Regions from separate parts of the Homo sapiens genome. Here region 1 is reported to be linked to region 2. Evidence: microRNA targets listed by miRTarBase, many of them from high-throughput screens and not tested one by one. Region 2 holds a microRNA gene; the other region holds the end of a gene's coding sequence.

Region 1 (5,000 bases), not on the chromosome of region 2:
CAGCTCACTGCAACCTCTGCCTCCCAAGTTTAAGTGATTCTCATGCCTCAGCCTCCCTAGTAGGTGGGACTACAGGCGCATGCCGTCACACCCAGCTGATTTTTTGTATTTTATAGTAGAGACAGGGTTTCACTGTGTTAGCCAGGATTGTCTCGATCTCCTGACCTCGTGATCCGTCCACCTCAGCCTCCCAGAGTGCTGGGATTACAGGCGTGAGCCACCGCATCCAGCAGCTAACCTTGATATTCTAAACACCACTACTGCTTGCTTCCCTACACTCATTGGAAGTGGTACCCTGACCTTTTCAATTAATAAGTGCCAATATGGAAAAAAACCTGTCCAGGTAATGCCTATGCAAGGAACACTGCCTACACCTATGCTTTCAGGCACCACATATTCAGGACCTGGGAACTACCTATGTGGCTCCAAGCGATTGCTTATATAATGTCACTGGGTTAAATCCAGTAGGGTTCCTTCTCACTGGCTGTGGTTATGCACCCTTACAGCATGCTATAAAGGGACCACATAAAAATAAGTTGCCCACTGGACCTTGTTTAGGAGCTGTGCAGACTTATGGGGGAACATAAGTGACCCCTGCTCAAATGCTACCAGGTGGCCCCCACTTTCCAGCTTCAGAGGGTACATATTAGGTCTGTGGATAATTTGCTTACTCTGTCCTGACTTCAGATCTTGCTGTTTCACCTGATTCATGCTCACCTTGCAAACAGCTTTCCCTGAAAGTCCCCATAATCAGAGGTCAAAGACTAAAATGAATACCAACCTTGAAACAGATGATTAGTTAGTTTCCCCTGAGCAAATATTCCAGTGGAGTTCCTGCGGACTCACTTTTGGCGGCAGTGAGGTGCCAACTGTATGGAAATTAAAGTTAATGCTAAATTGAAAAGAATTTTGTAGCACAGAGATTCGCACAGGTAGAAGCCACAGATGGATGGATGGATGGATGGATGGGTGGATGATGGATGGATGGATGGATGGATGGATGGATGGATGGATGGATGGATGGGTGGATGGATGGATGGGTGGATGGGTGGATGGATGGAAGGATGGATGGATGGATGGATGGATGGGTGGATGGGTGGATGAGTGGATGGATGGATGGATGGGTGGATGGGTGGGTGGGTGGGTGGATGGATGGGTGGGTGGGTGGATGGGTGGACGGGTGGACGGGTGGACGGATGGAGGGATGGATGGATGGATGGATGGATGGATGGATGAGGCCACCTGTGTTCAACAAAAACACGTAATGGAACTTCATGCAGCTTTAGATTTCCTTTGCCCAGCTAGGAGCTTGTGTATGGTGCTGAACAAAACTGAACGCTGTGCTTATCTTTCCTGATTCTACTACTATGGAGAGCTTCAAAAGGCGGTGGTGGCTGCCGCTTCTGTAGATACTGCCACCAAACACATCAAGGATATTTCTCAGGGAAAAGGAACACATAATGTGTTTGCAGGAGCAGCTAGTGGTTGGTTTGCAGGCATCCTGAATGGTAGACAGCAAGCTTAGCTGTTCAAGGTTTTCTAATCTTCATGTTTCTTTTAGTGGGTATCCCAATCACCATGACTTGTGTTACCAAAAGCTAACTAAAAAATCAAACACTTTACAATTAAGGTACTTCATAGTGAACTATGTCCTTAATTGCCATTATACCCTGAACAGGCTATGAGCAGCAGAGCTTGCACGCTGTTGAACTATTTTTATCGTCTGAACTTGAGTTGTTTGATTCCAATCAGTTTGGTTTGTGGAGACTCATATTAAGGGATGCATTCCAGTTTCTTGGTATTACACTCCTGATAGCCATCCTAAGGTCCCCACTGATGTGTTGTAGTCTTAAGTACACCAATGCAGTCATCCTTTGTACCTCAAATGGTCTCATTACGGTTAGAGTAACAGAAACATGAAGACATACAGAATCCGCTAACTGATTTAACATTGTAAACTGTGAGTTCCATAATGAGGTCAAATAGTGACAGAAGGTAGTGTCAGTGCGTGGGATTTTGGTCAATCTCTCAAAATTAAGGGGCTGAGCAAAATGAGGGACACTGTGAAGCTGAATTAAGTCTGGCCTAAAGCTGCCTCTGTACACAGTGAATTGTAACTTAACGTGTAAACAACTCGTAACCTAACCTAAAAGTATGTTCTTCTAACAAGTAGCCGAATTTTAGCCAATCACAGCAGCCAAACCTTCAGTCAATCGTCGGCTGAAGGCTGCTAAAACATGTTCAGGTAAGGCAAATGCCAGACTGCAGCCAATCAGGCAACCTAAGTTATTTTCGTTTCTCTGGCTATAAATGTAGCCTACACACATTGTGGGGCTGAGCATTCTGAACTGCTTTTGGTGCTAAGTACTAACCAGTTCACGAATCTTTTTTCTGCTCAAAAACAGAACATACTTTTTAAACTTCGTTAAAGTTGTCTAAGGTTTTTTTGCCTTCAAGCCCTGAAGAACAAGGAGTTCATAGAACAAAGGAGAAAAGTCTCTTAGCCTTCCAATGACAAAATGAAAAGCTGCCAGCAAAGTTTCAAAGGCTACTCTGAAACCCAAGTCATTCTTAAAATTTTACATAAAAGCCCATAAATCACTTCTTACTGCAGAAAGTGAACCAGCACTTTCAAGAACAGTGATTCTTCAAATGGCGCCCAAGGGCACAGCAGCCACTATTCCAAAGATCACACTCGCTTCTGGACTTCAGAATTTCCCACCCTCCTTGCGGCTTGTTGAACTGTTTTTATCATAGTTCCTCTTCTTACACTGGTCACGGTGTGGAACTGAGGCATGCTGGGTAAATGTCAAATGAAATGAAGGCACACAATCTCTATTCTCAACTAGACAGCAAATTGAGGTGCACAGCTCCTCTTAAAAAAAAAATCCATTTGTGGTTGTTGATTTAGTGGTCCCTAACAGACAACAGGCTCCTCTTTGCCTGTACCGATAATAAGTGTCAGTACAGAGCCAGTCCTTCAATTGGGCTGATCGCCAAGCACTGGAGAACTATGGAATGTGCACTGATGAGAACTCCAGAAATTCAGTCCAACTTGGCTTTCACTGGGGAAAAATTGGGTCCAGAAAGGCTGAGTGATGTACCCAAGGCCATCCCGTTGGCTGGTCTGCTATTCCTGTCCTTAGGATCACATAATACAATTTTTTTCCATCTTTTTACCTAGATTCACATAAGGGAAATCCTCTCCCAGAGTCATTTCTTATCTACCCAGAAGGAATTTGCACCCTTTCAACATCCTGGGCCAAGTGGTGGCGTTTCAGTTCATGTGAATCCATGTAAAGTACTATGATATCGACGACAGCCTCAAAGCCAGGTGGGAGGAGGAACCCACAACTTTGTCTCCACTGACATCTGTATGTTATCTCATTGTCATTCATGATTCCAGCTATTTTCCTAAGTTCCAAATTTTCTATGACTGTCATCTGGGGTTTTGAAAACAGCACCTAGAAACAGAGCCTAGAACTCTGGCCTGTTCTGCTTATAAATTAATAAATAAAATGCAGTTCTGAGGTCAACACCTAGCTCCAGTTGACTGTCGTCCCAGGGACACAGGCTCCTTCCTTCCCCTGACTTCTGTAAACATGGGCACTGGCACAGTTAGTACGAGAGCAGCAGCTTGTCTCCAGATTAGAGGGGAAAAACCCAGCCTTCACTTTTTCTGTTTGGTGGGTGAATATCAGTTATTCTGTAGTCAAGAGAGGCTGGCAGGCCAGGCCTGGGCTCAGGGAAAGGCAGGGAGGTCTTCAGAAAGCTCCTTGCTAGGATGGCCAGGTTCATCCTAGCACTTCACACTCCCATGGCTGGGAAAGGCATCTCCGAATTAGGAAACCACCTCCCTTTAAAAATAATGGCCCTGGGGTCAGAGAGGCAGAGATTGCACAAGGCCACAAGTCACTTAGGTGGAGCTGGGGCTGGACAATGCAGGACAGGAACAAAGGCTTGCTGTGTCACCACTCAGAAGCTGCCCACATGAGAAGGGCATGACGTCACCAGACTGTTTCTGGACTGGGAGACCTTGAGGCTCTAGGAGTATTTCTGACACCTACACTGGTTCCTCAGGTACCGGGACCTGTAGTGGAGGATTGAGCCCACTGAGCATCTCACTGTACAGGTAAGAGAAGGGAAAGCTGGATCCACATTCCAGCCTGGAATGAGCCAGACACTATCCTCCCCACCCTCTGTCTCACCCACCTCCCTGCTTCGGCTTCACGGCCACCTCACCAGGAAGGCTTCTGCATGGTTCTTGGCCTTGCCCAGGCCCTGCTCTTGAAAGGCAAAGGAGGGGAAAAGGGAAATGCTGCCATGTGGCTCTTGCCCCAGGCCCAGTCTGGCAATGAAGCAGCAGCAGTACAACTATGGTCTTGACAGGCAGGTGGCAAGCAGGAGAGCTCCAGCCTAGGAGAGGAGCTCCAAGAGCAGTTTCCAGATGTGCACGGTGCCAGGCTCTTCAAAGGTGGGTCCTGCAGGGGCAATGCTGGCTGCCAAGAGGAAAACCTCCCGCTGGTTATCGATAGCCTGTAGACCCAGCTCCCGCTGCAGCTCCCCCATACTCATGGCCTCGCTCAGGTCCTGGGTGAGACACAGAAGTCCGAACACAGCTGGCAGCATTTCCTAACACACTGACACCCTTGTCGTTCATGAAACACACTGTTCTTAGGCTATCCCCGGGAATATCAGGAAACACACTGTTCTTAGGCTATCCCCGGGAATATCAGGAAACACACTGTTCTTAGGCTATCCCCGGGAATATCAGGAAACACACTGTTCTTAGGCTATCCCCGGGAATATCAGGCCCCAAGTTCCCAGAAGTAGCCTCTGGACCCCTTGGCCTAAACTCAATGCTCTCTCCCTCACCCTGGGCTCTCCTTTGTACCAACCTCTTTTCATTGCATCATTAGCCACTGTTTTGAGACGGAGTTTTGCTCTGTCACCCAGGCTGGAGTGCAGTGGCACGATCTTGGCTCACTGCAACCTCCACC
Region 2 (5,177 bases):
AAATGTTAACAGATCCTTCGTTCATTCTTCAAATACAGCTCAGTTCCCAGGGCTTTCTTCTGCACAAATGAGTCAAAAGCGCTGCTGCATCCAACAGTGAGAAAGCAGATGTGTCCCCCTCATTCAGAACACCCAAACTCTCTTACTGTGGCTTAAGGGGCTATAACCTTCTGACTCACCCTTCATACCATAAGCTCATGCAGACTGCAAAGCTAACTAATGCTAACCATCCTTCCTGGTTGTTTTTAAAGCAATTTCTATTAAACCTATTTAGTCCACCTTTAGGCAGTTGCCTTCTGAATTCAGGTTCATACCATTACATTTCCTCCTGCTGCAATGTTATTTTCAGCCTGTCTTTCAAGCCTGTCCAGATTTTTGTGAACGCTGTTACTGAGTTTGCATGCACAAGGTTCCTCTCACAGATGAATCATGCCCAAATTTGACAAGTGTACTTTCTACATCTTCCACTACAATTTCTAAGAAACGAATAGGCTTCTACTGACATTAGTGAGTGGCATAAGCCTGAATGAAATAGACTATGACTCTTGACTGGCTGAATATACAATAAAAGCATAAAACACAAAATGCTTTTCCAACATAGATGCTAGAAATGAGAGTAAAGCTAAAATTCCCCAGCCATACACCCCATGTGGGCTCCAGCACTCTACGTTTAGCTGCCCAGATATCAGCACACATGGCTGTGATGGAGCCAGGAGGTGGGTGCTTCAGTCTTGACTTCCCCACTTTCTATCTTGTGTCCCACCATCTAACTTGTTTTGGGCAAGTCAGTTTTTTTGAGCCTACCTTTCCTCCTCTATGGTGTGTGGGTAGTAACACCAGTCAGACTTAACCTGAAAGTTGTGTGAATGAAAAGCATAATCTGTATGTCAACCCTGAAGATATACGTATGTCAGAAATTACTATAAAGAGATCATCAGCTGGGCACGGTGGCTCACACCTGTAATCCTAGCACTTTGGGAGGCCGAGGCGGGCAGATCACCTGAGGTCAGGAGTTCGAGACCAGCCTGGCCAACAAGATGAAACCCTGTCTCTACTAAAAATACAAAAATTAGCTGGGCGTGGTGGCGGACACCTGTAATCCCAGCTACTCGGGAGGCTGAGGTAGGAGAATTGCTTGAACCCAGGAGGCGGAGGTTGTGGTGAGCCGAGATGGCAGCATTGCACTCCAGCCTGGGGAACAAGAGCAAGACTTCATCTGGAAAAAAAAAAAAAAAGAAAAAAAAAGAGATCATCATTAATTTCCTTTCATCTCATGATGTAGAAACATTTAGATGTTGGGATCCTTCCACATACTTATCTAAGAAAATCTCTGGCTTTTTTTTTTTTTTTTTTTTTTTTTGAGATGGAGTCTCGCTCTTGATGCCCAGGCTGGCGTGCAGTGGCACCATCTGGGCTCATTGCAACCTCTGCCTCCCGGGTTTGAGAAATTCTCCTGCCTCAGTCTCCTGAGTATCTGGGATTACAGGCACCCGCCACCACGCCTGGCTAATTTTTTAAATATTTTTAGTAGAGACAGGGTTTCACCATGTTGACCAAGCTAGCCTCAAACTCCTGACCTCAGGTGATCTACCCACCTTGGCTTCACAAAGTGCTGGGATTACAGGCATGGGCCACTTTTCTATTTGTTTATTTTTGTGTTGGTTTTTCTATTTTTGGTGTTTCTGGATCATGGACTTTGAAAAACTTCCTGGCTTAGCAAATTAGTGTCCTTGTTTCAGTAGCTTCTGCTTGAAGATTTCTGCTGTAGGCAATGAGCCAACTGGCCAGAAAATATCCAGTTATGCTCTGCAGGTTCATGGTGGATGGGGACTTTCACTGTTGTTTAGAGAAACCATTGAGTGGATAACGTTCCAAACAGCAAAATCAAATGGGGATTCTGTACACTCGGGAGTGTCGGCTCTGGACAAATTAGGTTGCACTTGATTGTAAGAAGCCAGGCTTTATTAAAATAGAATATAAATATTAACAGAAACGGACTGCTTCTAATCCCCACTACCGTTGGCCAGGGAGGCCTCTCTTCAGGTTTTCTGAATGGAACTAAATAAGGAGCCCATGTTACCGCGGAAAGGGCACTGTGATTAGGAGCCTTTCATGAGCTTCCATGAACGTCTAGGGCTTGGAAACTTCATTTTCAAAATAAGGCTGTTGGATTAGATGATTTTCCCAACCCCTAACCCTCTGTGTTAATGAATGGACTGACTCTATAATCATGTTCCTTGGACATTTCTATGGAAACACTGAGCCATCATAAGGGAGGCCTTCATTCTGATGTAACAAAGCCAGCTGTGTCCACATGAGAACATTGGCAAGAGTGGGGACATGGAAGCTGTGTTCAGGCCGGTCCACGCTGGGTGACCCATGTGACCTGCTGCTTAGCAATTCCTTGTCACCATCTTCCCTTCTCAGCCTCTTTTTTCATGCTAACAGGCATAAATGAAATGATAAAAGTTTGAGCTCTTCTCGTGGAATTCTCGTGATACAGATATGTGCTACATGTTCATCATCTCGTTGGTCTTCACCATGATAACTGTGGAGTAAGAATTATAAGCAGGTCACAGATTAGGGACTTGAGATTGACAGTTTGGCTTCCCTGTTCTGGGTGGCAAAGCCTGTGGAGTACTCACCTACCTGCTGCATGAAGGCAGCATGGAGGGACTGTGGTGGATTATCTGCAAAGATGGCCAAAATTCTCTCATCCCTGCAGGCACATACAAGGTAAGAACACCTTTACCAGTGGAATGTGATGAAAATGCTGCCCAGACAATTCTAGACAGGGCCTTAAGAGGTCTAGATGCTTCCACATTTGCTTTCTTGGGAGCTCTGAGTTATCATGTGAGAACCACCAGTCTCCCCAACCTGCACCCTAAGCTCATTATCCACAAGGCTGTGCAAAATAATAAATCACTGTTGTTAGGACGCAAAGTTTGGTAGTGGTTTGTTATGTAGTCGTGGATAACTGCAGCAGGGATCTCAGCAACTTTTCTTCTCTGAACTAATGTTTAAAGTCAGGATGTAACATATTGTCTCCATGTGACTTTGTTGAACTAAATAAAGAATGCTAATACCAGATGCGGACCCTGCCTCTTCTGTTCTCTAAGACTAGGCATTGCTCTCTGATCAGAAGAGTCAATCCTGGTGAGTTTAACTTGAGCCTCAGAATCCTACTCAACACAAAGTTCCAGAGAGAAGCGATTATCAATGCCAATACCTTAGAGATGGTACTGGCTGTGGAATCTGTCATCCCTTGACTAGGTGGTCTCTAAGTTCCTTTCCAATTTTAATGTTTTCTGTTCTGATTTATCTTTTGGCATTGTGCAGGTGTCAGGAGAAAAAAATAATGCCAATGTGTCTCTTTAATTCCTTTATCATTAAGTCATAACCTTTCCCAACTCCCAATCCAGTTTTCTTACGTCAATACTTTGGTTTTTGCTTTGTGAAGATGCCAGAATCAGTCAAAACTAAGCTCACTGTCCTTGCTAATATTCTGCCCCAGAGAAGAACTGAAGCTCAGCTCTTCACCCTACAGAAAGCCTGAATTTTGTAAATGTTCTGCTTAGAATGAGGAAGAAAGATGAAGAATGAGGAGGAAGAAGGAAGGAACGAGAGAGAGGTAAAGCCAACAAGCAGAACAGACCTACATTTGCAGCATCTCCAAGTTTCTGCAACAGCATTATGTTGTTGTTATGTTTTGTTTTAATAAAAGCACATACCATTTTTTTTGTTACTCTTATATTCTTTTCATAACAGCTCAGCTAAAGACAGATAATGCTGGAGTCAGCTTTTTCTAAGAATTAGTCTCTTCAAACTGGCCATAGAGATTTGGTAGAAGTCATGGGTTTTAATTGAATTTCTCCTAATGGTCTCCCAGGGATGGAAATATGACTGATACAGGCTTACTTTCCCTCTCCCCTCGGTGAAGCTGTATTGCCTCCCACAGAACAGACCGTTCTTTATGTTCTAACCGGGCTTTTCATAACTCCACTGGAGAGCTGTACAAACCCTAGACTTGGCAACGGCTTTTTTGTTTTCTGAAGCCAGACCAATTCTGGACCCAGTTCCTGCTTTCTAGGAAGAAATAGCACATGCAACCAGCCTCTTCACTGATGAAAAAATACCTCACTCCTTTTTAGACAGCTTCTCGTATTGATAATTTTATAGAAATGTACTGTATAAGTGAAAGTCAGCATTTCCATTACACAACAGCCTGCTAGAGCTGCTTCCAAGGGGCAGAGACTCCTGTCGGCTGTTTGTCCGAGGTGATCTTCCTCCCTTAATCTGTCAGTCTAGACCTTAACAATGTTCCTCAAATACCGGCTCAAGTCCTTCCTTCTCCCAATAACTTTTCTATGGTCTCTGGACCTCCTTAGTCTTCAGTGCCGCTCCTCCTAAGTTTCTGCACCACCTGCCTTCAACACCTAGTCTGTGCTGTAAGCATGAGTTTTCTTGTGGCTTCTTTTTCTCAAGGCAGGCTGGGCGTGGGGAGCTGTCTCTGCAGCATCTTTTGAATATAGATGCCATTTCTCACTTTTCTTTTCTCTGTACCCTCTATAGTCCATTGAAAATACTGGGCAATTGATAAATTCATGCTAAAAAGGACGATGATCAAGGTAGGGCCAAGCTGCATGGATGAGGGAAGAGTTGCCACCCACACTGGGCACCACAGGTTCCCTGCACAAGTCACTTTCCCGTTGTGGATCTAGGTTTCCATCTTGGTTTTTTTTTTTTTCCCTTTTATTTATTTATTTATTTATTGGTCAGATGACTTGATCTTTATGGGCTGCAAGAGTCTGTCCTCCCATAGGGTTCAACCTTGGAAACGGGATGGTGTCATTAGAGTCCATCTGCTCACAGCCCTCCATGGGCAGCGCTCTTTTTGGGGGGCTCTGCTCTCACGTGCTGCCTGTGCTGTGGACACAGGTACACTGCCCGCTTGCACAGATAGTGTCTTTCTGCAGCCTCCCTGTTTACATGCTTCCCCAAGACTGGATTCTGGGGCCAGGATGAGCCATGCCCCCCATCTGGCTCTGACCTCCCCTGCGCCAGCTCTGGGTACTAGAAAGTCGCGGTTCTGCTGCTAGACGTTTTCTTCCTTTCTTTAGGTTGTTGCATGGCATAAGTAAAGTGACAGTTATAGGATACATGCAACTTTTCAGTGA

What was found. The annotated mature microRNA hsa-miR-7515 reads AGAAGGGAAGAUGGUGAC and lies in region 2 at 2,407-2,424, opposite strand. An mRNA with a match to its seed (bases 2 to 7 or 8) in the 3' UTR can be bound and repressed. Matches are read on the target gene's strand: a 7mer-m8 pairs with bases 2 to 8, a 7mer-A1 pairs with bases 2 to 7 and ends in A, and an 8mer does both.
Region 1: miRTarBase lists ARL10 as a target of hsa-miR-7515. Seed matches in the 3' UTR shown: 7mer-m8 at 4,139-4,145.

Annotation. Positions count from the first base shown.
Region 1 is chr5:176,371,312-176,376,311 of GRCh38, reverse strand. It overlaps ARL10 (ARF like GTPase 10), which reads right to left. Exons shown (of 4, transcript NM_173664.6): 4 at 1-4,590. The coding sequence ends at 4,417. Among named protein-coding and RNA genes, the nearest start is that of MIR1271, 5.9 kb to the right of the region's middle.
Region 2 is chr2:6,647,665-6,652,841 of GRCh38, reverse strand. It overlaps MIR7515 (microRNA 7515), which reads right to left and starts at 2,469; the gene lies at 2,403-2,469. LINC03156 (long intergenic non-protein coding RNA 3156) reads left to right here and starts at 2,323. Exons shown (of 2, transcript NR_110497.1): 1 at 2,323-2,736; 2 at 3,461-3,735.